Regions from separate parts of the Homo sapiens genome. Here all the other regions are reported to be linked to region 3. The links are microRNA targets in miRTarBase. Many come from high-throughput screens and were not tested one by one. Region 3 holds a microRNA gene; each other region holds the end of a gene's coding sequence.

What was found. The annotated mature microRNA hsa-miR-4252 reads GGCCACUGAGUCAGCACCA and lies in region 3 at 4,066-4,084, opposite strand. An mRNA with a match to its seed (bases 2 to 7 or 8) in the 3' UTR can be bound and repressed. Matches are read on the target gene's strand: a 7mer-m8 pairs with bases 2 to 8, a 7mer-A1 pairs with bases 2 to 7 and ends in A, and an 8mer does both.
Region 1: the mRNA of CBX5 is a reported target of hsa-miR-4252. Seed matches in the 3' UTR shown: 7mer-m8 at 6,013-6,019, 8mer at 3,648-3,655 and 7mer-m8 at 1,073-1,079.
Region 2: miRTarBase lists PRXL2C as a target of hsa-miR-4252. Seed matches in the 3' UTR shown: 8mer at 6,929-6,936.

Annotation. Positions count from the first base shown.
Region 1 is chr12:54,234,499-54,245,268 of GRCh38, forward strand. It overlaps CBX5 (chromobox 5), which reads right to left. Exons shown (of 5, transcript NM_012117.3): 5 at 1-7,407. The coding sequence ends at 7,257. Among named protein-coding and RNA genes, the nearest start is that of MIR3198-2, 8.4 kb to the left of the region's middle.
Region 2 is chr9:96,633,860-96,644,629 of GRCh38, forward strand. PRXL2C (peroxiredoxin like 2C) reads right to left here. Exons shown (of 6, transcript NM_153698.2): 6 at 5,718-8,027. The coding sequence ends at 7,900. Among named protein-coding and RNA genes, the nearest start is that of PRXL2C, 16 kb to the right of the region's middle.
Region 3 is chr1:6,425,779-6,436,548 of GRCh38, forward strand. It overlaps MIR4252 (microRNA 4252), which reads right to left and starts at 4,118; the gene lies at 4,056-4,118. It overlaps ESPN (espin), which reads left to right. Exons shown (of 13, transcript NM_031475.3): 2 at 2,448-2,641. RefSeq lists an enhancer at 2,780-2,899.

The DNA of each region.
Region 1 (10,770 bases), not on the chromosome of region 3:
GTTCACTGCATTCAATTTGGCCTAATTTCTTGATAATAGTTTCCTATTAGATTTTCCGATTAATACTGATGGCTCTTACCTAGGCTGTGATAATTAGGTTTTGATCTATTGTGACATTAATGATCACAATCAGTTGACTTTGAAATTGTCTTAATTAATGGCTCTTTCCTTGTCAGCTTTTGCCTCCAGTGCAGGATTCATTCCCTTCCCCACTGCCTTGTTTTAACTCCTTCTCTTACTGACCTCAGAAACAAATAGCATTGGAGGATCACTTTCTTCCCATAAAACAAGACTTTAAACTATTTTAAAACATTTCTCTTGACAGAGGAGCAATATGAGATGATGTTAGATGAAATGAGGATCAGAATGAAAAGGCAAGAGAACAAGCTGTCAATGAACAGGAAAAATTCCATCTTAGAAAACAACCAAAGTCAAGCACAATGTTAAAGTGACAAGTTGAAGTAACTCTAAAAAGACAAGATGAGGTAGATTAAAATCCAAGAAAGTCAGCACAAGCAAAAAGAAACCAGAATTGTTTTTATGAAACTATCTAAAAAACTTCACACTTTAACTTTCCAGAGCAGTTACTCTAATTCCTGGGAATTCTGACTTCCAAAGTTAGTCAACTCTCAATTATCCAGGCAGAAATAAATATCTTTTTCTTGTGGTCATCCATGGGTCAGAATCGACAACATCCTTACGATCAGACTGTTTCTTAACCCAGCTACGCTTCGATGATTAAATCTGAGACTCAGATTTAATATACAAGGTATATGTATTTCTGGCAAAGGTTTCCACATAACTGATACAATTCTCTGCTTAGAAATCACCCTCTCGGCCCGGCGGTGGCTCACGCCTGTAATCCCAGCACTCTGGGAGGCCGAGGTGGGTGGATCATGAGGTCAGGAGATTGAGACCATCCTGGCTAACAAGGTGAAACCCCGTCTCTACTAAAAATACAAAAAATTAGCCGGGCGTGGTGGCCGGCGCCTGTAGTCCCAGCTCCTCGGGAGGCTGAGGCAGGAGAATGGCGTGAACCCGGGAGGTGGAGCTTGCAGTGAGCCGAGATTGCGCCACTGCACTCCAGCCTGGGAGACAGAGCAAGACTCCGTCTCAAAAAAAAAGAAATCACCCTCTCTCCAGTATTGAATAAAACTGCACTGCTCAGAGTAGATGCTCAGGTATTAACAGATGTGCTCCAAGACTTCTCTTTAGAAAATCTCTTGTCATTGGAAAGCATGTCCGTTTTAGGCTTAAAGGCAGTTAAGTCTCATGTTCATTCCTCCAAAAGGGATGAGAAATTGAAAAAGGTGTGAGCAACTCTGGTAAAGTGTCCATGAGGAATATGTTGTTATAGAACCCACAATAATGTAACACAACTGAATCTGCAACATAGTTAATGCTTTCCACAAGCAAAGATTAACTCTACCACTACTTTGGCCAAGAATCTAAACCAGGGATGAAAATCAGGAGTTCTCAATCCCAACTCACCTGTTTTCTCTCTCAGTAATAACAGCATTTCCAACCCTCCAGCTATATTTATTTCCTGGAATATGTTCTTGTGTTCTATGGCCAGCTGGCTCAGTTCACCCAATGTTATAGGTCTTTTCCACATATAGGCCGAAATTAATGTCAACTTCTTACTCCAGGGCTACAAACTATACAACATCAGCCAGTCTGTCTCTGCCCCCAAGTCAGAAATGTGTATTGGTTTATAGCATTTATTATACCAAACTATTTTTTTTTTGAACAGAAACATAGCTTGTAAGCACTTAAACTATTAATGGTCAGTTCATCATACACCAGTATGAAAGTTATTTGAGGGCAGGGATGGCCTCTTTCTGAACCTTGTATCTTCAGGCCAAAAAAATGTCTGTTGAATGAAACCAATGTTGATGTACAGCAATGTGGCTGGAATTTAGAAAGCTTAATAAAAATTGGGTGAGGGGGCATCTAATTCAGAACATGTTTTTGGGTGTAAGGCTAGTATCATCTACTTTTGAAAACATAATTTTTATGATTAGCAGGTAAAGGTAGCATGAAACTGCAATACACTGGCTCCAGACCTTTCCTCTCTGCCTTGCCACAGGCATGCTTGGTGGTCTGATTACAAAAGTACGGATCTCAACACTATATTTTTTATTCTAAAATCTCAACCAAAATGATGGGATCATGGGTGCAAAGTGGGTTTTTCCTTTAAATTGTGAGAAACCATTTCCACATTTCAGATCTAACGGTGTTCTCATGACATTGCAAAGTAGTATTTTATGCCCTCAAAACTGAACCTTAAGGTAGAGACAATTGCTCCCCGGGCCAAACACAGATCCCTCCAACCCCTCACTGTACCTTAGGAAAGCTGGGGTAAACTACAGATTCAACAAAATCTCAATAAGAAAATCCCAAAAACCTTCCCCAATGCCCTGTGGTTTGGCCTGAACATAGGGAAAATGGACTGCTGGGTGGCTACAGAACAGGAATGAAGAGTTAAGAATAATAAATGCCTAAGTTACAGGGACAGAACCAATCTTTCATTAATGACACAAAGTAGAATGCACAAAGTAGTATGCAGTATGGCTGGGGGACAGTCAAGGACCATCTAGACTTTTAATTGTTAGAAGCACCACAGGTCCAAATGCTCCCCAGAGTGGACCAAAACTGGATTTTGTCCATGGCAACACTGTTCTCCACTATTCTGTCTATAATGAGAATATATCAATAGCAGGAAATCTACTTTCACACATGGCAAACCGCGAAGAAAAACAAGGATAACCTCAGACCACTTTTACTTGCTGTAAGTGGGAAAAACAAACAAACAAACAAAAAACCCCAGCAAATAAAGGATTTTCCATGAACAGAAAAGCAAATATAAATGCAGTTGATAAACTAGAAAGCAATCATCAACTAATTGCAGACTATAAAGATACCCAAAAATCCTTCTCAAAATAGCACCCCAGTGGATGGTAGTCAAGCTTTCCAGCAACCAGTTATTGATGATTCATGGCCTACATCAAATGAATAAGACTTCGATTTTTGATACCAACAATGTCCCCAAACCAAACTTAACAAAGCTAATGACTGCTTCTCAGTAATTCAGGAAAAATTTAGAAATATAGCATTGTGAGCAAAAAACAGAAGCTTGTTTTGGGGACAGGAATTCCAAGAGTCTGAGTGAAGATGTGGTTGGAAGCCTTCTCAAACATGCAAGTCCAGGGCTTTTCTCATCCTGCCTTCCCATCACCTGACCCTCCTCTGAAACCACCCCTCAAGTCTTTAGCAAAGTCAGGTATTACAGAGGACAGAGCAACAAAGAGGGCAACTGGAATTTAAAAAAAATTGTATTACTGAAAGTGCTCCATGAGAGCAAACAAATAATGACAATTTTATTTTTGTCCACAAAAATTTAATAGAGGTGGCCAGGCACGGTGGCTCATGCCTGTAATTCCAGCACTTTGGGAGGCCAAGGTGGGCAGATCACAAGGTCAGGAAATCGAGACCATCCTGGCAAACATGGTAAAACCCCATCTCTACCAAAAATACAAAAATTAGCTGGGCATGGTGGCACACACCTGTAGTCCCAGCTACTCGAGAGGCTGAGGCAGGAGAATCGCTTGAACCCAGGAGGTGGAGGGTACAGTAAGCCAAGATTGTGCCACTGCACTCCAGCCTGGTGACAGAGCGAGACTCTGTCTAAAAAAAATAAATAAATAATAGAGGTGAATGTCTGCATTAGGATCAAGACAAGAAGAAGACAGACAATCACTTTGGAATTCTGAGACTACCTCCAAGAATCATCCACGGAAGGATGTCAGCCATTTAACCAGGGCTACGGATCAAAAAGGAAAAAATACAGTCAGTGGACAAGTAGAAGAGTCTCCTGAAAAATATCCGTATTTGAAAAGGCAGCAGGAGTTGATAGAAAACATAACTAAAAAAGTAGAAGACACTGTTAAATTTGAATCTGGATCCTATATAGCTTCTTCTCTGGGATCTACTGAGGAGTGAAATCTAAATGAAGATTTAGCTTAGAAAGCATGAAGATAGTATGTTCCAATTTTAAATAAAAATTATATTGTCTGAAAGACAATACAATTTTAGTACTGGGGGAAAAAAAACTAGATTGTTATTTGAAGAAGAAAACATCATGGTTCTCTCCAGGTTTAAAATGGGTGCTCCCATGTAGGCTGATTTTCCCGGCATTTGATCTTAACTTGAAGGCCATCTGCCCAGCCCAGCAATCAAAGGGCTGCTAAGCTGTCCTTGGTAGCCTCTACTGGGCAAAGCTGTGCTATAACTCTGAAGAAAGGGAGATCTTTTAATGTTGATTACTGAAAGGCTTAGAAAGATGTCTTGAAAGAGGACTAAACACAAGAAAAATAAATTTTTAGCATTTGAGACTTAGGTGTTTAAGAGTGCTTAGCTCTTAACTATTAACTCTTCTGAGGGGAGAAAGCTCCATGAAACAGGTTTCTGTTTGAGGCTGTAATTCTTCTAGGGCAAGAACATCTACTCAACACTAACAAATGCTGGAAGCAGGCATCTGATTTCCTTTGTGCTAAGGGCTGAAATCAATACTGGCCTCTGGCTCCCTACATTCCTATAGAACCAGCTGCAGGTAGGCAGGAAGAGAACAAAAGTTGTTTTGGCGGCACTCAGTACAATAAACCGAAGACAAAAAAGACAGAGTAAAGTCTATTAACAGATGGTAAGTAGTAGATGATACTGGGGTTATTTCGGTAAAAGAATATCAGATTTTTATGAATGTCTTAAATATTACCTATAACCACAGCAGCCACATGCCCCAGGTTTCTCAGAACCAATCTCAGTACCAAATATTGTCATGTTCTTTGTCCACATACTAGGTTTTTGGTTTTAAAAATAAGGTCGCTGCAGTTTACATGCCCACTGCTACTGGGAGGCATACACTGGGCCACTTGGATAGGCTGTCATTTTCTGCAAATCAAGAGACCCATATCACCTCCTCAGGAGCTCTGGCCTATTTTTGTCCTATTCTTGTCTACCCTAATTGATATCCTTGGCTACATTTATGATAAATGTTTCCTGACCATCCTTTCCTTCTTTTAGATACCGATCAGATTAAGTACAAGCAATTGTCAATTATCCAGCACTTGATCTAGGCCTTTAATTCCTTCAGAGAGAGAAGGAATATAGAGATAAAACTCCCACCCACTTGAGGTATGGTTTATGAGCTCTTGCCCAATCACATTACCATTCAGAAGGATTTTCCTGGCTGACTTAAACCAAAAGCTTCATTGTTCCAGTCTGTCATGTCACTGCAGCAACAGCTGTCACCTCAATTATGCAGTATAATTTTTGACATAATTTATATAAGCACACAGAATTCAATCAGCAGCTGAGCAGGGAAGCAATGTTAACAAATGCTATGAATGGGTATATGATTTGCATATTATGTGGCTCATCTGTGGACTGGAGCAATCCATCCATTCCCCTCATTACTCTGAATAATCTAGAAATGGTAGATGCTCCTGGCCAGACAGCTGTATGTTTTAAAAATCAAAAACAACAAGAAAAGCAGCCTCATGGCTGGTGCGCTCTAGAATTAAGGCTATATTAAGCATTTATTCTTATTTCCTCAGCTTTGGGGCTGGGACAAGGATCCTCAAAACCCTGCTATTTCCTTACTTTTAATTGTGATTCTCTAGCCCTCCTCAACTACAAAAAGAAAAGGATAAAGTAGGGCATTTCTTGGGGGACAAAGGCAGAAGGATATGATCAGACAAATTTCTCAATAGCAACACAAGAAGAAACCAAAACGAAGTATTTTGCTGAGTAAGAAGAAAAGGGTGTGTCAACATGCTAATGCCAGGGCCTGTCACTTTCCAAGGTGACAGTCTTTCAGGAACATGCCTTTATTTTTATTTATATTTTTTAGAGACAGGGGGTCTCACTACATTGCCCAGGCTGGTCTCAAACTTCTGGCTTCAAGCAATTCTCCTGCCTCAGCCTCCCAAAGTGCTGGGATTACAGGCGGTAGCCACTGTGCCTGGCCATGAAAATTCATTTTAAAAAATAAGATACAACTATAAGTTTGAGGGTAGAAAAAGGGAAGAGCATTAATATTTTGGGGACTCTTGGTGGTAAATCCAGGAGCCAAGAATGCAGGAGACATAACTGCTATGAACACTTAAAATTGATATTGTGGCCAACAGCTCACCTCTAAAACTTCCCCACTGAAAATAATGGCATGGAAGGGAAACTCGGGTCCACTGAGAAGTGAGGGTCAGGTTTGAAGCCTCTTTGGTAACAGGAATGCTTTGGGAGGCCACAAAAGTTGGCAGGGTTGGAGGGTGCCTAGCACCTTGGCACAAGCAAGCACCAGGCAATCACTCACACCTACATAAATATACAGTCTAAATATGAGGAATGGAAAGAAATCATACATACATACCATATATGATAATAAAGACAATTGTACCCTACCCCATCATCCTCATGTACTATAGCTACAAATCTGCACAGTTAATAATCTTGTCATTTTATCACAAATTGATATCACTTTACAGAAGCAGAAGTGGGGAGTGCTAAAAGCAATACCGAAAGTCCTGGGGCTAAAAAGAGTGTCTTGACAGATTTCAGTGTAAAATTTCAAATCTTCCAAAGGATGGAGTAATTCTGGGAGGATGAGTGAGGATGAACAACAGAGGGTGGCCCAGAAGACCACACCAGAAACCCTGTATTCTCCTGGGTAGAGCTGAACAAGGTTGGGAAAGCCCCAACAGGTAGGCAGTTGCTATTGGCTTTTTAACAGATGGGCAACATCCTTTCCATCTCAACATGTCAGAACAAAGGCCAGCTAGTCAGCAACATGTTCTAAGAACCAAAGCAAGAAACCAAAATTCAACATCATTGTAACAAAATCCCCCAACCTAAAAAGCGACCAACCCTGAAAAGATCAAGACTCTAAGGTGATTAAAAAGTTGAAACTCATCTTGAGGTCACAGGGAAGCAGAAGGAAGAGATCAGGGCAAAGGAAAAAAAAATTGTGGGTATTACACTCAGTATGTAAATGCCTGGTCTTCACAGAGAGACACTTATCATTAATCAGACCATCAGTTATGTTACAAGAGAACCAATACCAACATTTCTCCTGTGGAGCACAGTGATAAGCACATTTTTTATGGATGTGTTTAGGATAGAAAGGGGTGGGTAGAAAGGAGAGGAGGCAGGGAGGTGAATGTATTATGTACAAAGAGAAATGACAGAGACCATCCCCTCCTTTAGCTCTTTGCTGTTTCTTTCTCTTTGTTTTCCGCATCCTCAGGATATGCATGCCATGTCAGTCTCTCTTCATAAAATGCTATCACAATTTGTGGACATTTCACATTAGCTTCTTTTGCAAGAACCAGGTCAGCTTCATCTGTGTCTTTCCTGGAGAGAAAGAATATGAGACTTAAAAGGAGAGGAAGAGTGAAAGAATCTGTCCAGACATACGTTTATGTCATTATATGGATTTAGTTGACTTGATTTCCTCCTCACCTTGGTTTCAAGGTGAAAAGGACCCTTTCAATATTTTCAAGAAGAAATGTAAGTAAATGGATTAATAGCTAATATATTATACAGAAACAGATGTCTGTAGCTAGAATTTAGATGTAAACCATGGTGGGCTTAGGTTAAAAAGATGAATAATAAATAATATTAATCTGCTTCCAAAATTTTTATTTGTGAATATGAGCATGTGAGTGAACCCAATCAAACCTACATTCAGGGGCCGGGCACGGTGGCTCACACCTGTAATCCCAGCACTTTGGGAGGCCGAGGCGGGTGGATCACGAGGTCAGGAGATCGAGACCATCCTGGCTCACACGGTGAAACCCCGACTCTACTAAAAGTACAAAAAATTAGCCGGGCGTGGTGGCGGGCGCCTGTAGTCCCAGCTACTCGGGAGGCTGAGGCAGGAGAATGGCGTGAACCCGGGAGGCGGAGCTTGCAGTGAGCTGAGATCGCGCCACTGCACTCTAGCCTGAGCAACAGTGCAAGACTCCGTCTCAAAAAAAAAAAAAAAAAAAACCTACATTCAGCTCTATTGATTATGCACAAGTCAATTATACACAGGTTGGTCAATCCAGTTTCCAGATCATCTAAGTGAAGGGGTCTTAACCCTCCTCACCTTGTGTCCGTTTAAATACTCATTACCCCTCTGGCCAGAACTGTGGATTGGAACAACGAGCAAATAAAAATTTAGCTACAAATTTCAATTATCTCAGTAGGGCCTCTAATACCAAGTATAACAAAAAAAAATCTAGCTACATGGTTCCTTAAGCATGATTCCAAATCAATTAAAAAAAAATTAAAATTATCCTGAGAAGCTCAGGTGCAGCAGCTCATGCCTGTAATCCCAGCACTTTGGGAGGCTGAGGCAGGTGGATCGCTTGAGCCTAGGAGTTTGAGACCAGCCTGGGCAACATGGCAAAACCCATCTCTACAAAAAATACAAAAATCAGCTAGGCATGGTGGTGCATGCTTGTGGTCCCAGCTACTTGGGAGGCTGAGGTGGGAGGATCACTTGGGCTTGGGAGGTGGAGGTTGCAGTGAGCTGAGATTGAACCACTGCACTCCAGCCTGGGCAACAGAGTGAGACCCTGTCTCAAAATAAATAAATAATAAAAAACAAAATAGAATTATCCTGAGATGTGGACAAGAAAAATTACCACCTTATTGGAGCAGATACTCAAATTTGGACTATGGTGGAAAAAGCCAATTAATGTTAATGTAAATTGTAAGTAACCACATATGGCTGAGTAGGAAAAAGCAGTCCAGCCCAGGCACAGCGCCTCATACCTATAATCCCAGCACTTTGGGAGGCCGAGGTGAGAAAAGCACTTGAGCCCGGGGCAACATAGGAAGACCTGGTCTCTTCAAAAAACTTTTTAAAAATTAGCAGGCCATGGTGGCATGCACCTGTAGTCCCAGCTACTCAGGAGACTGAGGTAGGAGGATAACTTGAGCTCAGGAGGGCAAGGCTGCAGTGAGCTGTGATTACGCCACTGCACTCCAGCCTGGGTGACAGGGCGAGACACTGTCTAAAATAAAATTTTTAAAAAGCAGTCCAGCCTCAGCGTGGTGGCTCATACCTGTAATCCCAGCACTTTGGGAAGCCAAGGCAGGTGGATTGCTTGAGATCAGGAGTTCGAGACCAGCCTGGCCAACATGATGAAACCCTGTCTCTACTAAAAATATAAAAATTGCCCAGGTGTGGTGGCACATGCCTATAATCCCAGCTACTTAGGTGGCTGAGGGATGAGAACTGCTTGAACCTGGGAGGCGAAGGTTGCAGTGAGCCGAGATGGTACCACTGCACTCCAGCCTGGGTGATAAAGCAAGACGCTGTCTCAAAAAAACAAAACAAAACAAGCAGTCCATATAGCTCCTTACTTCTGACAGAATATGGCAATTCTTCAAATACAGGTTTCTGGGTAATTTACCAGCAGTACTCTCATCAGATAAAATGTTAAGCCTTTTGATTATACAACTTTTTTTTTTTTGAGACAGAGTCTCGCTCTGTTGCCCAGGCTGGAGTGCAGTGACAGGATCTCGGCTCACTGCAAGCTCCGCCTCCCGGGTTCACACCATTCTCCTGCCTCAGCCTCCCAAGTAGCTGGGACTACAGGCGCCTGCCACCAAGCCTGGCTATTTTTTTTTTTTATTTTTAGTAGACACGGGGTTTCACCGTGTTAGCCAGGATGGTCTTGATCTCCTGACCTTGTGATCCGCCCGTCTCGGCGTCTCGGCCTCCCAAAGTGCTGGGATTACAGACGTGAGCCACCACGCCCGGCCTTGATTATACAACTTTTAAGGTAACATGTTTCTTTAGTGGCACTGCAACACAAACCCTCTATGTATCACAAATTCAGAATACTTGGAAACAGAGGTAGTGAGGACCACAACATAAATCACTCTGTCTTTAAGAAATCAAATTAGGGCTGGGCGCAGTGGCTCACACCTGTAATCCCAGCACGTTGGGAGGCCAAGGCAGGCAGATTGCTTGAGGTCAGGAGTTCGAGACCAGCCTGACCAACATGGCAAAACCCCATCTCTACTAAAAACACAAAAATTAGCCAGGCATGGTGGTAGGCGCCTGTAATCCCAGCTACTTGGGAGGCTGAGGCAGGAGAATCACTTGAACCCGGGAGGCAGAGATTGCAGTGAGCCAAGATCGCGCCACTGCACTCTAGGCGAAAGAGACTCTGTCTCAAAAAAAAAGAAATCAAATTGAGAAGAACTACTTCCTTTTCATCTAAGAGCCATCCTCTCTCTACTGGATGAAATAACTTGTGCTTTGGCCAGTATTAGCTTTAATGCTTTTTGTTGAGATTATTTTTCTCTTTTAGACATTATTCAGCAGGTTTGGCCCTCAGTGATGGCAGAAAGCCTCATTTGATTCCTAGCCCAGGATCACAGGCCCATGGTCTTACAGTAAGTAATTCAGAACTGTGTAAACAAGTGGTTAAGTCATGTTTTATATATATATATTTATTATTATTTTTTTTTTTTAGAGACGGAGTCTTGCTCTGTCGTTCAGGCAGGAGTGCAGAGGCTCGATCTCAGCTCATTGCAACCTCTGCCTCCCAGGTTCAAGCAATTATCCTTCCTCAGCCTCTCAAGTAGCTGGACTACAGGCATGCGTCACCACGCCCAGCTAATTTTTGTATTTTTAGTAGAGATAGGAGTTCACCATGTTAACCAGGCTAGCCTCGAACTCCTGACCCCAAGAGATCCGCCTGCCTTGGCCAC
Region 2 (10,770 bases), not on the chromosome of region 3:
TCAGCTTCCCGAGTAGCTGGGATTATAGGTATGTACCACCATGCCCAACCATGTGAATTTTTAAGTTGAATTTAGAGTAGCATTCACAATAATGTCAGATGTTTCACCTTTGAGAGAATACGCTTCCAAACATTTTGCTTTGACTTTGTAAACTGGATGAGAAAAGGTAACTATTAGCTCCTTTTTTAAAAAGAAATGAATGTAATCAAATTCTCTATTTAAAGCATTTGGTAATACTGACATAAAACTGGCAGCCTGTAACTTTTTTCAGAAGTTTCTAACAGAACCAGTATAGGAACAGCTACTACACTTCATTTTTAGTATGTCCATAAGAAAACTTGACTTGAAAAAGATTGGAATTAATTAGAAAAACCTCTTTGGCTTGGCACAGTGGCTCACACCTGTGATCCCAGCACTTTGGGAGGCCGAGGTGAGCAGATCCCTTTAAGGTCAGGAGTTTGAGACCAGCCTGGCCAACATGGTAGAATCCCATCTATACTAAAAATACAAAAATTAGCCGGGTGTGGTGGCACACACCTGTAATCCCAGCTACTTGGGCGGCTGAAGCATGAGAATTGCTTGAACCCAGGAGGTGAGGTTGCAGTGAGCCGAGATTGCACCACTGCACTCCAGCCTGGGCAACAGAGTGAGAAAAGCAAACAAAAAACAAAACAAAAAAAAACCTCCTTGATTTAAATGAAAAATCATTCTTCACAGAATGATGTGTCTATGTACATTCTTCAACTTCATATCTTAAATTACCTTCTGGAACACTCTTTTTAAAATAGCCATTAACTTTGAAGTAAATGATGTTACTTCTTCGGAAAATGTGTCTTCCAGTTTTCATGTAGTCAGTGATACCTCTTTGCCCCCCATTGTAAATGGTAATGTGAACAAACATTTTATGCAGGTTGCTAGTGTATCATCAGTTTTCTTGAAAAACAACAAAATATTTGATTTTAAAAATGAAACCATGCATTTTCATTTTATTGAAATTCTTGTTTCCATAGCAGTTCATCACACAAGCCATACAATGAATTTCCTCACTAGATTCCTTGGATGTGGATGGATTTGACCTTATTCTTACAAGGTTTTAGCCCTTCAAAAGTTTCCAGTCTCAGGCACAGGTCTTAGGTCCTACTTTACTCTAGAGCCTTAGTTTTAATTCTCTACTGTCCCAGACCTTTGAATTGGCCAAAGAATAACCTTCTCTAATTCCTGGGATGAATTCCTGCTCTGCAGTGCAGTCCATGGCTTCCAAGCATGCTCTTCAGCCTAGCTTCTGCTCGCTTTCGGCCCTAGTGGCATTTCTTCACTTTGTTGTAAGCTCAGCTTGAAAAAAGTTGTTGCTTCTTCTCTGCAAAATGGTGATGGTGATGATAACAATATCAGTTCCATAGAGTTAATGTATGTAAAGCACTTGGAATAGTACCTAACAAATCATTACCACCATAAAATGTTTGATGATATTATTTATTTTTATCCAATGTCTCCATGTATTTGTGAGAGAGGTTCTTCAGAATTTCAAGTCCAGTATATGACTGGATATGGAAGTATGTTTATAAAGTTAACAGTACATGTTATAGGTAATTTTATATTTAAAAAATGTGTTTGGGTAGGCAATTTGCCATTGCACTACACTTATGTACCTGTACCTCCCTGAAGCCACATAAAGAACATGTATTTATCTTAGAAAAATGTGGTGCACATTTATAAATACAATTGACCCTTAAACAATGTTGGGGGTAGGGGTGCCAATCCCTTACACAGTCAAAAATCTGCATATAGCTTTGGGCCTCCCAAAAACTTAACTAGTAATAGTCTATTTTTGACCAGAAGCCTTACCAATAACATAAACTGTCAATAACATATTTTATATGTGATATTTATTACATACTTATATTCTTACAATAAAGTAAGCTAGAGAAAAGAAAATGCTATTATGAAAATCACAAGGAAGAGAAAATATATTTTCTATTCATTAAGTGGAAGCAGAGCATCATAAAGGTCTTCATTTTCTTTTTTTTTCCTTGTGACAGTTTTGCTCTGTCACCCAGGCTGGAGTGCAATGGCGTGATCTCAGCTTACTGCAACCCCTGCCTCCCTGGTTCAAGCCATTATCTTGCCTCAGCCTCCCAAGCAGCTGGGATTACAGCTGTGTGCCACCAAACCCAGCTAATTTTTGTATTCTTAGTAGAGACAGGGTTTTGCCTGTTGGCCAGGCTGGTCTCAAACTCCTGGCCTCAAGTGATCTGCCTGCCTCAGGCTTCCAAAGTGCTGGGATTACAGGCGTGAGCTGCCATGCCCCACTGAGATTTTTTTTTCTTTGATTCATGTGTTATTTAGAAGTATGTTTTTAATCTCCAAGTATTTGGGGATTTTTCCAGTTATTGCTTTTGAGTATAATTCCGTTGTGGTCTGGGAGCAGGCATGCTATGAGTTCTATTATTTTACATTTGTTAAGGTGTGTTTTAGGGTACAGAATGCAGTCTATCTTGGTGCATGTTGCATGTGAGCTTGAGAAGAATGTGTGCTATTCTGCTATTGGATGAAGTAATCTGGAAATGTCAATTATATCCAGTTTAGTGATGGTGCTGTTGAGTTCAACTATGTGCTTACTGATTTTCTGCCTGCTGGACCTATCCATTTCTGATAGAGGGGTGTTGAAATCTCCACCTATAACAGTGGATTCATCTATTTCTCTTTGCAGTTCTATCAGGTTTTACTTTGTTGTCAGGAACATACACATCGAGAATTACTATGTCTTCAGTAGGAACTGACTCCTGACCCCTTCATCCTTATGTAATAGCTCCCTTCATCCCTGATAACTTTCCTTGCTCTGAACTTAGCTTTGTCTGAGAGCACTATAACTATTCCCACTTTCTTTTTATTTGTGTTAGCACATTAAATCTTTCTCCATTCATATACTTTTTTTTTTTGAGACAGAGTTTCGCTCTTATTGGCTAGGCTGGAGTGCAATGGCACGATCTCGGCTCACTGCAACCTCCGCCTCCCGGGTTCAAGCGATTCTCTGGCCTCAGCCTCCTGAGTAGCTAGGGTTACAGGCACCCGCCACCATGCCCAGCTAATTTTTTGTATTTGTAGTAGAAATAGGGTTTCACCATGAGCCACCGTGCCCGGCAATAACAAAATATTTCTAATTCCCTCATCTTGTCTCTTGTATCTTTGCTGTTATTCATTTATATGTAAGTGTCATTCACTTATATATAAGCATATGTAAGCATATCTATATATAAATATATATACATACATAAGCACACATAAACACACATACATTGTTGGTATTATTATTTTGAACTGTTATCTGTAAGATCAACTAAGAATAAGAAAAATAAGGCCAGGCGTGGTAGCTTACCCCTGTAATCCCAGCATTTTGGGAGGCAGAGGTGGGCAGATCACCTGAGGTCAGGAGTTCGAGACCAGCCTGGCAAACATGGTGAAACCCTGTCTCTACTAAAAATACAAAAATTAGCCAGTTTTGGTGGCAGTCACCTGTAATACCAGCTACTCAGGAGGTTGAGGCAGGGGAATCGCCTGAATCTGGGAGAAGGAGGTTGCAGTGAGCCAAGATCGCGCCATTGCACTCCAGCCTGGGTGACAAGAGGAAAACTCTGTCTCAAAAAAAAAAAAGAAAAAGAAAAGTATTTTACCTTCACTCACTTATTTTCCAATGCCCTTCCTTTTTTTAATGTAGATCTGAGTTTCTAATCTGTATCACTTTCCTTCTTTCTGAGAAACTTCTTTTAAATTTCTTGCATGACAGGTCTACTGGCAACAATGTCCCTCATTTTTTGTCTGAAGAATGTCTTTAGTTATCCTTCACAGGATAATTTTTTTCCTCCTGTTAGAAAGTTATTGAAGGATAATTTTGCAGAGTACTGAATTCTAGATTGGTGACTTTCCTCTTAACAGTTTAAATATTTCACTCCACTCTCTTCTTGCTTGCATGGTTTCTGAGGGGAAGTTGGATGTAATTCTTATTTTTGCTCTTCTATAGGTAAGGTGGTTTATTTCCCTCTGCCTTCTTTCAAATTTTCTTTTCTTTTTTTTTTTTTTGATACAGAGTCTCATGCTGTCACTCAGGCTGGAGTGCAGTGGTGCAATCTTGGCTCCTTGCAACCTCTGCCTCCGGGTTCAAGTGATTCTCGTGTCTCACCCTCAAGTAGTGGGGATTACAGGAACACACCACCGTGCCCAACTAAGTTTTGTATTTTTGATAGAGATGGGGTTTCACCATGTTGGCCAAGCTGGCCAAGCTGATCACCCCTGACCTCAGGTGATCTGTTCGCCTCAGCCTCCCAAAGTGCTGGAATTACAGGCATGTGCCACCACACCCAGCTAATTTTTGTATTTTTAGTAGAAATGTGGTTTTACCATGTTGGCCAGGCTGGGCTCGAACTCCTGACCTCAAGTGATCTGCCTGCCTTGGCCTCCCAAAGTGCTGGGATTACAGGTGTGAGCCACTGCGCCCAGCCAAGATTTTTTATCTTTGATTTTCTGAAGTTTGACTACGATATGCCTAGGTGTCTTTTTTTTTGGCATTTACTATGCTTGCTGTTTTCTGAATTTCTTGAATCTACAGTCTGATGTTTGACATTAACTTGGGGAAATTTTCAGTCTTTATTGCTTCTAATATTTCTTCTGTTAGTTTCTTTCTTATGATTTCCCATGATTCATGTTATGTCTTTTGTAGTTGTCTCTCAGTTCTTGGATTTTGTTTTGTATTTTTTGCCTTTGCTTTTCAGTTTCTAGTGTCATATCCTCAAGCTCAGAGATTATTTCCTCAGCCACATCCAGTCTACTAATAATCCCATCAAAGGCATTCTTCATTTCTATTCCAATGTTGTTAACTTCTAGCATTTCTTTTGATTCTTAGACTTTCCATCTCTCTGCTTACATTACTCATTTGTTCTTGGATGTTGTGTTTCTCCTTTAAAGTCTTGAGCACATTAATCATAGTTTAAAAAAAAATTGGTCTGATTAATTCCAACATTCTTGCAATATCTGAATCTGGTTCTAGTGCTCGTTCTGTCTTTTCAAATTGTTTTTTGTCTTTTCATATGCCTTATAATTCCTTCTTGGTAGTGGACACGATGTGCTGAGAAAGGAAAAAAAAAAAGGTCTTCATTCTCATCTTCACCTGGAGTAGGCTAAGGAGCAGGAGGAGGAGGAGGAGGGGTTGGTTTTGCTGTCTCAAGTGAGGCAGAGGCGGAAGAGGTGACAGGGGAGCCAGGCACACTTGGTATAACTGTCTCCCAGGCTGGAGTGCAGTGGCACCATCTCGGCTCCCTGCAAGCTCCGCCTCCCGGGTTCACGGGTTCACGCCATTCTCCTGCCTCAGCCTCCGGAGCAGCTGGGATTACAGGCGCCCTCCACCACGTCCCGCTAATTTTTTGTATTTTCAGTAGAGACGGGGGTTTCACCGCGTTAGCCAGGATGGTCTCCGTCTCCTGACCTCGTGATCCGCCAGCCTCGGCCTCCCAAAGTGCTGGGATTACAGGCGTGAGCCACCGTACCCGGCCCACACTTGGTATAACTTCAATTGAAAAAAAAATCTACATATAACTGGACCCGTGTAGAACCTATGTTGTTCAAGGGTCAACTGTATATAATTTTTGTGTAAGCATGTGATTCAGCAGTATGAAGTCTAAAATCAGCAAAGGTCACCTTTAGTATATAAAAAAAGCACAAAATAGTTTAAATGAGAAATTTCATTTTTATTGAATAAAAACATTATACAAACATGAAGATATATTCAAATATTTGAATACATTAGTTTTTTTTGTAACTTTATATGCTTCATATAAAAGTACTGAGTTCAAAGCAGTATTATACTTGCTAATCATTACCAAAATTCTGATTTTGCTATACTTTTCATCAGGATTTCTGGGACACCTCCCAACTAAACATATTAAGATTCTAGAAAAATAGGCCGGGCGCGGTGGCTCATGCCTATAATCCTAGCACTTTGGGAGGCTGAGGCAGGCAGATCACCTGAGGTCGGGAGTTCGAGACCAGCCTGACCGACATGGAGAAACTCCATCTTTACTAAAAAATAGAAACTTAGCCAGGCATGGTGGCGCATGCCTGTAATCTCAGCTACTCAGGAGGCTGAGGCAGGAGAATCACTTGAACCCGGGAGGTGGAGGTTGCAGTGAGCCGAGATCGTGCCATTGCACTCCATCCTGTGCAACAAGAGTGAAACTCCGTCTCAAAAAAAAAAAAAAAATTCTAGAAAAATGAAAGATAACAAGTCTCCCAAATAAGAGCAGTTTGAGGGTGAGAAATAGCAGTTCTCTAGGAATGCATAACTAAACCATAGTGTACATTTAAGTTACCAAGTTTTAAAAAATTTTAACAATTCTTGGCCGGGAATGGTGGCTAACGCCTGCAATTCTAGCACTTTGGGAGGCCGAGGCAGACGGATCACCTGAGGTATGGAGTTCGAGACCAGCCTGGCCAACATGGTGGAACCCCGTCTCTACTAAAAGTAGCCAGGTATGGTGGCGGGTGCCTGTAATCCCAGCTACTTGGGAGGCTGAGGCAGAATTGCTTGAACCAAGGAGGCGGAAGTTGCAGTGAGCTGAGATTGAGCCATTGCACTCCAGCCTGGGCGACAGAGCAAGACTCCATCTCAAAAAAAAAAAAAAAAAAAAAAAAAAAAAAGCCAGGCAAGGTGGCTCATACCTGTAATCCCAACACATTGGGAGGCCGAGGTGGGCGGATCATGAGGTCAGGAGGTCAAGACCATCCTGGCTGTTATAACACAGTGAAACCCCGTCTCTAATAAAAATACAAAAAATTAGCCGGGCGTGGTGGTGGGTGCCTGTAGTCCCAGCTACTCGGGAGGCTGAGGCAGGAGAATGGCGTGAACCCGGGAGGCGGAACTTGCAGTGAGCCGAGATCATGCCACTGCACTCCAGCCTGGGCAACAGAGTGAGACTCCATCTCAAAAAAAAAAAAAAAAAAAATTCTTATAGTTCCCTTTCAAAAAGCACACTGACCATATTTTTAAATACATATCTTAAATATCTAAAACAATTTTTTTCTCCATAGCTCCCCCAACCCCCCAAAATCCTAGTGAAACGGATAGCAAGTATGTAGTTTGAGAAGGTGCTGTGGACACTGGCTATATGTGAAATGTTCGGATTGCCACACTTCCTCTGAGTAAAGCAATTACGATGGAAAAGTGGACTACAGCTTATATAATTTTGCTCTTTTGTGAAGGTTGTTATGTGGCATAAAATTGTCCTATAATGTTTAAAGACCTTTTCCTGGCCCTACAATATTAATCATGCTCATTATATAACAGTTGGGAAATACAGAAAAGTACAGAAAAGAAAATAATAACACTAATCTTAACACAGAGATACCTACTGGCAACATTTTGGTGTTTATTTCCTGTCTTTTTCCAAAGCATACAAAAATACAAATATATACATATAAAAATGCAGTTACATTGTTGACAGATTTGATATTTTGCCTTCTTCACTGAATATAATGGTCTTGTGTTGTTCTCCTGTCCCCTTATATACTGTCAGAATTTATATTGCCAAAAAACTCTTTCATTGACTGAATATACCATAATGTAAAATAATTTAGAGTATTTATGATTTTATAGCTTTTAAAGTTATATTTTGTATATTCATTTTTTTTGTATAAAATGTTAAAAGTTATAAAATGGAAGTATATAACATATTTTGACAACTGATGCTTCCCAGCATGCAATTCAACAGGTTCAAGCCCCCTTTATGCTTCCCTAACTCCTCAAAGGCTGGGAAGGGACAGCAGGTTAGACACTGCACGAGGATATTACACCCAGGCATTGAAGGTCACATTCCAGAAGGTCCAGTTGAAAGTGACTGAGTGCATTTTAAGTCACACATGGATAACTGAAGGTCTGTTTGTAAAGTTCACATGCTGAACTCCTACAAGCTGTAAAACAGAGTTGATAGGTTTGTGATCCAACCTATTCCTATCGCGGTGTATAAAATGGATGTTGTTACCTAGAAGAGAATAAGAATAAAAGGCTGAGGCATAGTATTATTCATCAGATTTACTGCTTACTAAAATCAAGGAAGCTTTTCAACCTTTAATTAGTCCAAAGGGAAAAATTAATTACCTGGAGTGCATTATATTCTCTATATAATGCCATAATAATTTTAAATCATGGTAATAAAGTATGACAAGGATTATGGTTAAATAAGAGCCATACTTGATGTTTTATGAGATCCAAGGGGAAAGATTTTTAAATTATAACCTTCTGTTAGGTTTTATTAAATATAATTAAATAAAATGTCCTGTCAGACGGGCAGAATACGGAACTCACATAGATATCAAGCTGGAAAATCACATCTGTTTCTTAAATCTAATAATAGAATAAATATAATAAGGAAATAAATCACTCACTTCAAAAAATCCACTCCGAAATACTGATTTAACAGGCTATCTGTATTATAACCATAGCCCAAAAGAGGCTCTAAAATAAGGCCTTAAAAGACAATCAGTTATAATACACTTAGATGTTCACAATCCTTACATCTGTTCAAATACAGATTTTATAATTTATAATCATAAATTTACAATCTAGTTTCTGTTTGATTCTTGAACTCAAGACCAGAATTTTAACTTAAACCATTAGATTAAGTGTATGAGGCACGTTTTCATTTTTTTTTTTTTTTTTTGAGACGGAGGCTCGCTTTGTCGCCAGGCTGGAGTGCAGTGGCATGATCTCGGCTCACTGCAACCTCCGCCTTCTGGGTTCAAGCGATTCTCTTGCCTCAGCCTCCCGAGTAGCTGGGACTACAGGCTTGCACCACCACGCCCAGCTAATTTTTGTATTTTGAGTAGAGACGGGGTTTCACCAGATGGCCAGGATGGTCTTGATCTCCTGATCTTGTGATCCGCCCACCTCGGCCTCCCAAAGTGCTGGGATTACAGGTGTAAGCCACTGCACCCGGCCATGAGGCATGTTTTCTAAGCACAGCTGGTCTTCTGCATCCATGAGTTCCGCATCCTCATTCAACAAACCACGGATTGAAAATATTCAGAAAAAAAGGATAGCTGCATATCTGCTGAATATGTACAGACATTTTTTTTTCCTGGTCATTATTCCCTAAATAGTACAGTACAACAACTATTTACATTGCATTTGGTATTATAAGTAAACTAGAGATGATTTAAAGTGCAGGGGAGGACGTGCATAGGTTAGATCCAAATACTACAGCATTTTATGTGAGACACTTGAGCATCTCAGATTCTGGGATCCACTGCAGGTCCAGGAACCAATCCGCCATGGATGCTGAGGGATGACTGAATGGTCCCAAGTTGGCACACAAATGATGCTCTCCATGTGCTCTTTCTTCTTTACTTATTTATTTTTGGGGGCAGTGTCTTGGTCTCTCGCCCAGGCTGTAGTGCAGTGGTGTGATTTTGGCTCACTGCCAACCTCCACTTCCCAGGTTCAAGCGATTATCCTGCCTCAGCCTCCCTAGTAGCTGGAACTACAGGTGCATGCCACCATACCCGGCTAATTTTTTATATTTTTAGTAGAGATGGGGTTTCACCGTGTTAGTCAGGATTGTCTCGATCTCCCGACCTTGTGATCTGCTCACCTTGGGCTCCCAAAGTGTTGGGATTACAGGTGTGAGCCACTGCGCCCAGCCCATGTACTCTTTATTCTTACACAACAGAAGATGTGGACAAATGATTCAGAGACATGGAGATAAGGGACTCAAAAACATCCCCTTTTGGGTATGAGGATGGAAATAAGTTGTTCAGAAATATGGCTAATGTCATTCTGGGCTAATGCATAGGATTCATTCTCATTCATCAGGGCTTCTTTTTATAACGAATCTGTTATAAATTCATGAGAGGGAGGCAAAGGGAGATTTTGGCTACAATGTTCCAGCTGCAAAAAGCCCAAAAATCATATTACTCAGTCAAAACCCTCCTTCTAAAAAATATGGTATTGGCTGGGTGTGGTGGCTCACACCTGTAATCCCAGCACTTTGGGAGGCAGAGGTGGGCAGATCACGAAGTCAAGTAATTGAGACCATTCTGGCCAACCTGGTGAAACCTTGCCTCTACTAAAAATACAAAAATTAGCTGGGTGTGGTGGCAGGCGCCTGTAGTCCCAGCTACTAGGGAGACTGAGGCAGGAAAATCGCTTGATCCCGGGAGGCGGAGGTTGTAGTGAGCCGAGATTACACCACTGCACTCCAGCCTGGTGACAGAGCAAGGCTCTGTCTCAAAAAAAAAAAAAAAAAAAGGTATTTATCAAAGTAAATATTACTCATATAACTCTTATAAGCTATGCTCATTAAGCAGACAGTTTTAAAGAGGAAGAAAAAACAAAAAGATGGTCTTACAACATAGTGATTTAGGCTTTTGGGCCCTGTCTGATAAGGGTGTTTGTCCTTTGTTGCAATGCTGGAACACAGTAGAGATCTAATCAGTTACAATACACTTAGATGTCCACAATCCCTACATCTGTTCAAATACATCTGTTCAAACACTTAGCAGAGACGAGCCAAAGCAATCTCAGGTGGTCCACACCCATCAATAAAGTTAACAGTGTGTGGCTTATAGTCGGACCTCAATCCCATTCTTTTTTATTTTTTGAGAGGGAGTTTCCTTCTTGTCACCCAGGCTGGAGTGCAGTGGCACGATCTGGGCTCACTGCAACCTCCGCCTCCCAGGTTCAAGTGATTCTCCTGCCTTAGCCTCCCAAGTAGGTGGGATTACAAG
Region 3 (10,770 bases):
CAGCTGCTTCTCCAACCCAGGCTGATTCTTGCTGCCTCCAGACCCCACCTGGTCACTCTGAGCAGTGACCTCCAAGGGGAGTCCTGGCTGCTGAGAAGCAGGTAGCCAGGCAGCGGTGGGACAGTTCCAGGCACAGGGAACAAGAAGTGCAGAGCCCTGAGGCATGCACGCTCTTGTCCTGTCGGAGGGCCAGCCTCAGGCATCATGTTCAGAGTGGGTGAGGAAGGGAAAAGCTGCCAGGGCCAGGCCAGAGAGTATCATAGGCCGAGGTTAGGGATTTGGATGAAATTCTGGGTGTGGGGGCAGCCATGGGAGGGAGGAACCACAACCGATTTCCACTTAGACCACTGGGTGACCTGGAGATGGAAGGGGAGGAGTCAGGGTAACTCTAAACTGGCTTACTATGCCCCAAAGATGGCCAGGCCAACCCCACCTTCTGCCTTCAGATAGCAAGCCCCTCTTCCCACCCTTCCTGGGAGATGGCCCACCTGCTATCTCTCAGTGGGCCCTGTTACCAGGGCTTCCTGGCCAAGTGGCCCATGCCCACTCTTTTGGGCGGTGGCATGCCTCCCAGATCCAGTGTCCAGCCCTGGCCAGAAGCCTCTCTGGCCAGTGCAGAGGAGCTGGGAGAAGCAGGTGGCCTTGGGCCCAGCTTATCGTCTCCTGCCCTCTGGGCTGGGCAGGCTTGGGTGTGGGGGGAGAAAGTGTGGGGGGGATGACCTGGATCCTTGGGCTTGCCCAGCCCAGAGAGATAAGCTGCTTTAGGGTGTGGTCCACCACGCACGAGGCTCCTGGGGCCTGGACACCTGGACAGCCTGGACAGGCACAGGCCAGAGCCCACAGGCCTGTGGCCCTCTCCTTACAGTTTCCACCACTTAGAGGCCCAGAGCCAGTGGGACCCCTGGAGCTTCAGACCCACAGTCCCCAAGGCCAATAGGAAGGGAGCGCCTTTCTCAGGAGCTGGGGCTTAGGTCACATTTCACCATGGTTCTGCCTGGGTGCCCGCTAGCCAGCCCCGACCTTTGGGCTCGGAGGGGACAGACTGAACCAGTCTCTGGCCCCCCCACTCCCAGCTTTCTAGCACACAGGAGGGGCCTCGGTGTTGTCCTCAGCTTCCTATGGGCCATCACATTCTCTGCCCCATCTTCCTCCCTGCCTCCTTAGCAGGACAGCCAGACAATTGCCCCCACCCCGCAGGCTGCCTGAAGACCCTACTAGTGGCCCCGGCGCCCCCAGCTCCCTCCGTGCCCTCTTTTCCTTGCATTTCTCACGGGAGCCTCAGAGGTTCTCTTCCCACCGTGATTTGACTTCCTGAGGCCTGGGGTCTCTTGCCAGCTCCTGCCGCCTCTGCCAGTCTGTAACCACAGTGCCCTCTCTCTGGGCAAGGCGGGGCAGAGAGGCTTTACTCCCTGATCCTAGTGAAGTGTGTCCACTGCATCCTGCACCCAGAACCCTGCCCACCCCTCTGTCATCCTATGTGCTTGGTGCTGGGAGGTGGTTCTGTTCCCGAACCAGTACCCACTCTGCCAAGTGCGGCAGCCTCTGTGTCTAGATGTTCCCGGGAATTCTCCTCCCAGCACAGGTCCTGTAAGCACTCCCCTCCAGCCCCTTTCTCAGCAGACACACACAATGGGGTGTGCACTGATGACACATTCAGCAGTTCTGGGCCCAGACCTCTGGCCCCACCTGCTCTGAGGTCCCCGGGGGGAGTTTTGTCCAAGCCCTCCCAGAGGCCACCACTAGCCTGCACCTAGCACCCCTGGCTGACTGCCCCGGACCCGCCCACCAGTACCCAGCAACTTCCACCTCCACAGGGGCGAGAACACAGGCTGCTCCTGTGGCTGGGCACTGGCGAGTCTGCTGGGGGAGGGGCCGGTTTTCTGCACTGAGGTTGGGTTCCTGGAGGCGTACCAAGGTGGAGGTCTCTGTTCCCACGTGACACCGAGGAAGGGTGGAGAGATCGGGGGCAAGTGTTGGATGCAGGGGGTGACCCCCAATCCTGATGCTAGCTTGGTACAGCCCCACAGCCCCCCTTCCTGGCCCTGCTCAGCCCAGTAACCCTGTGTCACTCCTTCAGGCATTCCCTGAGTCCCTGGGAGTCAGGGCTGTGGCCCTGGGCCTGGTGCCAGTCTCCTGCCGTGACAACCAGGTGCCTGTCGTGTAGGCAGCTCGCAGTCAGGACCTGCAGCCTCTGAAAACCCTGCACGGTGCTGCCTATTGGCTACGGTTCAGAGAGGGCCAGTTAGTTGCCCAAGGACAGAAGCAGGACTCAAACCCAGGATCCGCTTGACCCAAAAAAAACATTGCTGAATGAGGCCTGGCCAATCCCTCCAGGGAAGACAGAGAGCACAGAGCTACCTTCCAGGCCTGTGGGAGTCTGGGAGTGGCCCAAGCCAGGGGCGGGGCAGCAACAGGCTTTAGGACTTGAACCAGCTCTCCTCCCACAGGACAAAGACAATTCTGGTGCCACAGTCTTGCATCTGGCTGCCCGCTTCGGCCACCCCGAGGTGGTGAACTGGCTCTTGCATCATGGCGGTGGGGACCCCACCGCGGCCACAGACATGGGCGCCCTGCCTATCCACTACGCTGCCGCCAAAGGAGACTTCCCCTCCCTGAGGCTTCTCGTCGAGCACTACCCTGAGTAAGATCACCCCTCTTAAGGGGTCCTCTGGGTGGGCTGGGCCAGGGCTTTGGGGGATGCCTGGGATTTTCCACGCCTCTCTGGCACTCCAGGGCAATGATCCCTCCAGTGGCCATCCTGGGGCCAGAGGGCCAGGCCAGAGAAATGGCTCCCACTCAACATGAAATTTTCCCCTCCTGGAAAACCCCTTCTGGGGCTGCCCCCAGAGCCCTGCAAGCAGGTGCTCCCAGCATCCTCAGCTGCCCGGCCGCACACAGCTGGACCTGGGAGGCTGGGCACACAGGCCAAGGTCACCTGTTCCCCTTGGGCTGCTTCTGCCGCAGGGGCTCTCTCTGGCTCAGGCTGTGCTCATTTGCAAGACTGTTCAGGATGGAGTCGGGGGCAGCAAGGGCAGGAGCGCCTCCTAGGCCCTAGTCAAACAGGCAGAAAGGGAACCCCATCAGTTACCAAGCAGTTAAGGGAGAAAGGCCCCTCCCAGACCCCCACCCCACCTCCTGGCCCCAGAGCCCCTGGCTGGAGGCCATCCAGAGAGCATCTTGTTATCTCCTGTGGCCCCTCAGCCCGTTCCTACTATCAAGGGAAGCATGGGGATCCCAAACCTCCTGGGGAGTGGGCTGGGAGCTCCCCTGGGTGGGGTGGGGGGTCACACAGAGCAGGGGGCATGTGTGAGTCTTGGGGAGGGAGGGAGGGAGGGAGGGACTCAGGTGTTAGGTGCGCCTGGGGAGGCAGGGATCCTGGGGAAAGCTGCCCAGGGCCTGTCTGAGAGGGTAGGGTGCCAGATGCCACAGGGGTCTGAGCGGGGAGTGGGGTGCTCTGATGGGTGACCCTCATTAGTCTAAGTGGGAGCCTGAGATGTAAATGTGAATGTGGACCCAGCCTCAGGACGAGAGCAGCTTTGGTATGAATTCACTGCTTCCAAACAAACTAGGATTTGGATCATGTCAAAGTCAGTGGGATTTAGACTAGGAGGGCCCCAGGGACCCTTGAGTAGAGGGTTCCAACTGGCTCCTGTCAGCACCTCTTGGAGGCTGTCCCAGATTCCTGAGTTAGACTCTCCAGGTTGGGGCGTGGGAGCCACACCTGGGACATGTCCCCACCCTCACGGCGGTGATTCTGATGCACCTGTCCCACCCCCTCACTTCAAGCAGAGGAGAAGGACAGGTCTTGAGAGGGGCAGGTGCCCCTGATGGCGGGACCAATATGGCCCAAGTGTGAACTGGAGGACGCTGAGCCCACCTTCTGCAAGTGCTGGTGGGGACCGCCAGCCCCTGAGCCTTCCTCACTGAGAAGCCGTGATCCCTCCGTGGGCTGGATCCCAGGTGTTAGGAAGACTGGCTGTGCTGTGGAACGCCCTCCAGGGCTCCGGGGCTGGGGGACCCTGACCCCCTCCCAGGCCATGCCAGGTGCTGTGTGTGATTGGGCGCTGGTGCTGACTCAGTGGCCAGATGGCCTGGACTGATGAGCTGCCAGCCCCCCAGGAGTCACCATGAATCTCAGGGAGGTGGACAGAGGGCTTGGGCTCCGTTCCCCACAGCAGCATGTGACTCGACTGATAAGAAGGTGTCTTTGTGTGGTTGCCAGGCTGGGCTCACGCAGGAGGGGCAGCTGGGAATTGGGGTTGGGGGCTGGGGTACCCACTTAACCTCCTACCTTGGGGGTAGGGATTCCTGCTCATCAAGGCTGTGGATATGAGGGCTGGGAGCTGGGGAGGGCAGAGGCTTGAGCTGCCCCAGGACACAGGGCCCCATCAGGGGACCCAGGTGGCCCAGCTTCATGCTCTTGTGAGCCTCTGGGGCCTGCTGTGAATCGTTGTGAATTATTCACAAGGCTCAGCTCTCTCGCTGGCGCGTGGGTGAGCACTGAGGGAGGAAGGGCTCCCGGACCTGCTGGTGGGAAACTCGATCCTGCCAGGGAGGCTGTGGGTGGCCACGGGACGAGGAAGTGACACGCTGCAGAGGAGCTGGAAGGCTGGACAGCCTCGGGGAAGCTCAGCTAATTCCAGGTCTATACCTTGGGGTGTTATAACAGAAAGCGCTTGAGATTGCAGGAATGTCCTGCACGTCCCCCACACCTCCCCGTCTGTCCCGTTCATGGGGCCAAGTCTTCCCAGAAGCAGAGGACTTGTCACACTGACCTCAGGGGCTGCTGCCACGCGGGACCCTCCCTCTGAGCCCTTGTAGAAAAGAGATCTCTCATACAAAATTAGCCAGGCGTGGTGGCGCATGCCTGTAATCCCAGCTACTCAGGAGGCTGAGGCAGGAGAATCGCTTGAACCCGGCAGACGGAGGTTGCGGTGAGCCAAGATTGAGCCATTGCACTCCAGCCTGGGCAACAAGAGTGAAACTCTGTCTCAAGGGGGAAAAAAAAAGAAAAAAAAAAGGCATCTCTCAGTTGGGAGGCATGGGGCTGGCAGGAGCCGGGCTGGGCAAGTCCCAGGCTCTGGGTCTCAGGGAGATTGAGTTGGGAGGATTGGCCCTCCCGGCAGGAGCTCCAGTGGCTGATGGAGGGGAACAAGGGGTCCAGATCCCTAATCAGGGCAGAGTGAGGAGGGGCAAAGAGCAGGTGGCCCCAAGGCCGGTGGCCATCCTCCCAGGAGGGTCCTGGAGCCCAGGAGCTCACTCTGTCCCCCTCACACCTGCTTCTGGCTGCCCCAGGGCCTGAGCAGCTGGGCAGGGCTGTGGGGGTCAGGGAGCTGGGGATCAGTTGGGACCCTGAGGCTTAAGCTTCCAGGCTGGGGAGTGAGGAGGCTCCAGGCTCTTCCCCTGGGCTCGTGGGTGCTGCCAGTCACAGCAAGCTGGAAAACCAGTTAGCCCAGAGATTTTATCAACTTCAGCAGGTGCCTCCTTCCCCGAAAGCCTCCCCTACCCCCGACCAGACTAGACTGGAATGGGATTGGAAAGTACCTGGGGCTGGGTACGGTGGCTCATGCCTGTAATCCCAGCACTTTGGGAGGCCGAGGCAGGTGGATCACCTGAGGTCAAGAGTTCAAAACCAGCCTGACCAACATGGTGAAACCCCGTCTCTACCAAAAATACAAAAATTAGCTGGGCATGTGGCCGGGCTATGCCTGTACAGGTGGCCCATGCCTGTAATCCCAGCTACTTGGGAGGCTGAGGCAGGAGAATCACTTGAACCAGGGAGGCGGAGGTTGCAGTGAGCCCAGATCATGCTATTGCATTCCAGCCTGAGCAACAGAGCAAGATTCTGTCAAAAAAAAAAAAAAAAAAAAAAAAAGGAACGAACGAAAGAAAGGAAGAAAGGAAGGAAAGAAAAGAAAGAAAAGAAAAAGAACCTGGTGCTGAGTATCTTCTAGGGGTCTGGCACCACCCAGTGTCATCTGAGCCACACAACCACCCCGAGCAGTAGCTATGTAATCAGCCCATTTTACAGATGGACTCATTCAACTAATGTTTATTGAGCATCTTCTATGTGCCAGGCAATATTCTAAATGCCAGTGATATGCTGGTGAACCAGACAAGCTTCCCTGCCTCGTGGAGCTGACAGGTACAGAAATGGTGTTTTAGAGAGGCTGATTCACCAGCTGTGGTCACCACTGGCTTGCTGTGTGGCCTTGAGCAGGCTGTACCTCCTCTCTGGGTCTCTCTCCCACTCCTGGTCCAGGTCCTAATCACTCAGGGCCTTTCAAGTCCACCGGAGACTTCCCCTTTTCCCTTCCTTTGTGCAAGGCTTCATGGAGCCTGGCTGCTCCCACGGCCCAGGGGTTCAGGCAGCCCCCACCTGGGACAGAAAGGGAGTTTCTTGGGAAGCACCAGCAGCTCTCAGCTTAGAGAGCCCCAGGGCCCAGGGCTCAACTCTCCCCCTTAGAAGGCTGGAGGCTGTGCCTGGGGTGGTCCCTTTCCCCACTAAGCCCCTGATTCTGCCACAGGCCGTGGGGGCTCATTCCTTTTTGATCACCAGCTCCAGGTCTACCCTTGGTGTCTGTCAGTTCACCTGGCAGCAGGGCGTGGGGGCAGGGCCTGTGTCCGCACTGAGGAGGTGGCTGCTGTCCTTGACCCCCTGACCTACGTGGAGGCTCTGGGAAAGGAAGGGCCTGGTGGAGTCCGGAGCAGCCCCTCACAGCAGGAGACCATCTCATGTCTCCACCAGCAGCTCCTGGTCCCAGCTGTCGTCTAACCGGGGCTAGTGCCCCTGCCCTACCCTTCTAAGGGGGAGAGCTGAGCCTTGGACCCTGGGGCTCTGTAAGCAGCACACTGCTGGGGCATCCTAGGGCTTCTGAGAAACCCCCTTTCTGCCTCACGTGGGGGCTACCTGAACCCCTTGGGCTCAGCTGGGCCATGGGAGCAGCCAGGCTCTGTGAGGCTGTGCACTACAGAACGGAAAAGGGGAAGTCCCCAGTAAGCCTGAAAGGCCCTGGCCTTCACCCGTCCATGTCCACCCGCAGCCTTTGAAAACACAAGTCCTGCTGGGTGCGGTGGCTCACACCTGTAATCCCAGCACTTTGGGAGGCTGAGGCGGGTGGAACACGAGGTCAGGAGTTCAAGACCAGCCTGGCCAACATGAAGAAACCCCGTCTCTACTAAAAAATACAGAAATTAGCTGGGTGTGGTGGCACGTGCCTGTAGTCCCAGCTACTCGGGAGGCTGAGGCAGGAGAATTGCTGGAACCAGGGAAGCGGAGGTTGCAGTGAGCCAAGATCGCACCACTGCACTCCAGCCTGGGCAACAGAGTGAGACTCCATCTCAAAAAAAAAGAAAAAAGAAAAGAAAAGACAGTGCAAGTCCTGGTCTGGTGCAGTGGCTCATGCCTGTAATCCCAGCACTTTGGGAAGCTGAGGCGGGCGGATCACGAGGTCAGGAATTTGAGGCCAGCCCGGCCGATACGGTGAAACCCCATCTCTACTAAAAAATACAAAAATTAGCCGGGCATGGTGGTGGGTGTCTGTAATCCCAGCTACTTAGGAGGCTGAGGCAGGAGAATTGCTTGAACCTGGAAGGCGGAGGTTGCAGTGAACTAAGATCGTGCTGCTGCACTCCAGCCTGGGCGACAGAGCAAGACTCCATCTCAGGAGGAAAAAAAGTTAGCCGGGTGTGGTGGTTCCTGCCTGTAGTCCCAGCTACTTGGGAGGCTGAGGCATGAGAATCACTTGAACGCAGGAGGCAGCGGTTGCAGTGAGCTAAGATTGTGCCACTGCATTCCAGCCTGGGCAACAGAGCAAGAATCCATTTCAAAAAAAAAAAAAAGAACAAGTCCCATCACAGGCTTCTGACCACTGACAGGGAAGGCTGCTCACTTCCTTACAATGGCCCAGAGGCCATCCCTCCTCCGGGCTGTGGTCCCATCCAACAGGCCAGCGCCCCTGCCTTCACAGAGGCTGATCCCTCTGCAGGGATCAGAGATACCCGCCTGCACCCTGCCTTCCTCCAAGTCTTTGCCCAGACCTCACCTCAGCAAGGCCAACCCTGAGCCTTGCTGAAATTGTCAACCGCACCCATGATGCCCACTCACTCTCCCACTGGCCTTGTTCCCTGCTGCCCTTTTTCTTTGAGACTTGAGTCTCGCTCTATCGCCCAGGCTGGAGTGCAGTGGCACGGCTCACTGCAACCTCCACCTCCCAGGTTCAGGTGATTCTCCTGCCTTAGCCTACCGAGTAGCTGGGATTATAGGTGCATATGGCACCACACCCGGCTAATTTTTGTATTATTAGTAGAAATGGGGTTTCACCATGTTGGCCAGGCTGGTCTCCAACTCCTGAACTCAGGTGATCCGCCCGCCTCGGCCTCCCAAAGTGCTGGGATTACAGGCATGAGCCACTGCACCTGGCCTCCCAGCTGCCCTATGGTTGCCTGGCTTTGCGTTCTGTGTGCATCCTGCGTGACAACCAAAAGCTAACCCCTAGGAGAAACCCCTGAGACACATTCCATCTCTTCACTCCCTGCATGCCCGAATTTCCAGCCAGGCCCTTCATCACACAGACAGATGTGTGTTTTCATCCCATCTGTCCCTGACTAATGAGGCCAGGGGCTTTGTCTTCCCGGCTCTGTATGCCCAGAGCCTGACTCCAGTAAACGTCTGCTGAATGAGTGGGGTATGGAATCCCAGGGACTTGTCCACTCTGCCTATAGCTCATTGCATGTGACCCTAGACAAAACTCCCCTCTGAGCATTCCCAAGCCTGTCTGGCAAGTGGACCTAACCTGCCCTACCAGCCTGAGGCCATGAGTGAAGAGAGATCCCCTACTCCTGGCCTGGATGTCCCTTCTCATATTTATTCATTCAACAAAAAGCAACTGGGTGCACCCAACTGCCCGGCCCGTCATCACGTCAGCCATACATTCTTCTATCCATGTGTGTATGGGTCTGAGGAATAGGAGAACAAGATAATTCAGGAGTGACAAGTGCTGTGTAGTGAAATGAGCAGTTTGGTAGGAAGCGATGGGGATGGTTCTTGAAATTGAGGGGTCAGGGAAGCCAGGTGTCTTTGAGGAGAGGAGAGCTGAGACCCTAATGAAAAGAGGGTGGGCCTCGCAGCCCTGCCTTGATGGAACTGGCAGTGATGCGGGGAGGTGTAGAGGCCTCAGGTGGGGTCAAATGTGGCCTAATTAGGGGCCAGGAGGAAGACCTGGGAGGCTGGGAGAGTTGCAGGCAACTGTAGGCTTCTGGAACTATTCCATGCTAGCTGACGGCCTGGGGTGTAGAACCTTTCTCAAATCAGGGCTGCATTTCTTCCCTGGGCCAGGCCTACTCGGGAATCTTTTAACATAGGCCGGGAAGTTTGACTGGAGGACACCGAGAGCCATAGAGCCACCATAGGCTCGGTGAATTTCAATTCAAAGCAGTCACAGGCCGCAGCTGGACTGATCCTCGGATGGAGAGCCTCTTCCTGGCCTCCCTCTGGGGAGGCATGACTGGCAGTGGGGAGGGCTGCGGGAATCATTCTTCAGCCCGGGTCTGGCCCCATGGGCAGCTCACTCCCTGCGGCGGCGCTGGCAGTCAGCTGGCACCAGTCTCCGCCGGAGATTCCCACAGCCCACACGGGCGACCCATGTTTCTTTTGTGTAATCAGAGGTGACTTGATGAATAGTTACAGTTCATCCATAGCATCTTTGTTCCCAGGAGAAAGAAAACAAATCATGATTTATATGATCATCGCCAGGGCGCCTCTGACCTACAAAGAGGGTTTGGGTCAAAGCCGGGGCAAAGGGCAAGGGCTTGGTCTGGGAGCACTTTTCTGCAGCTGTCACTGTGGTCGGGGCTAGAGCTGGCAGGGGTCTGGGAGTCAGAGGTCTCCCCAAAGACCCATCCTCTCCCCTCTAGGTAGTGTTCCCCACAACAGAAATGGTGCCCAGCCTGGCCCATACTTGGCAGGACCTGGACACTCCAGGCCAGCCATAGACCCTCCTGGTGGCTGGTCCTCCCAGGTACAGGGAAGGATCCTAAAGTTCAGCAATGGCTGTGCACCAGGCACCAGGCCTGTGCTCAGGGCTCTGCCAGCACTTCTCAGGCACTCCGCATGAGGTCAGGATGACAACTGTTGTCCCCATTTCATGGATGGGTTTGGGAAGACAAAGAGACAAGAAGCAAGACTGTGGCACAGCTCAAAGGCACGGGACTTGAGCCAGGTCCTCCTTATAGCGAAGCCGGGGCCCTCCCTGCAGGTCCTCCTGCCGGGGCTGTGCCCCAGCAGCTGGCAAAGAGTGTTCCTGAGTTCCCAGCAGTGAGGTCTGCGGGAGAAGGGCAGTGGTCTGTGCGGTGGGAGGGAGGGAGGCAGAGGGACAGACCAACCAAGAGCAGAAGGGGTGTAGACGTGGCACATTTGGAGTCAGAAGCAGGCTCTGCATGAGACGCAGCCTCAAATTGGGGCTCTGCCTCTTTCTCACAGAGTGATCTTAGCTCTCTGTGCCTCAGTTTCCTCATCTGTACCAGGAGAACAATGCTAACACCTGTCCTGTGGGGTTACAAGGACCAGCTGAGAGAACGTGTGTGTTGTACTCATCACAGTGCTTGAGACAGAGTAATCATTCAGTAAATGGTGGCTGCTATCACTATTATTATTTACTATTATTACTTTTATTAATTCCTCTCTCCAGTGATGGGAATTTTTTCTTATTTATTTATTTATTTATTTATTTATTTATTTATTTTAGAGGCAGGATCTTGCTCTGACACCCG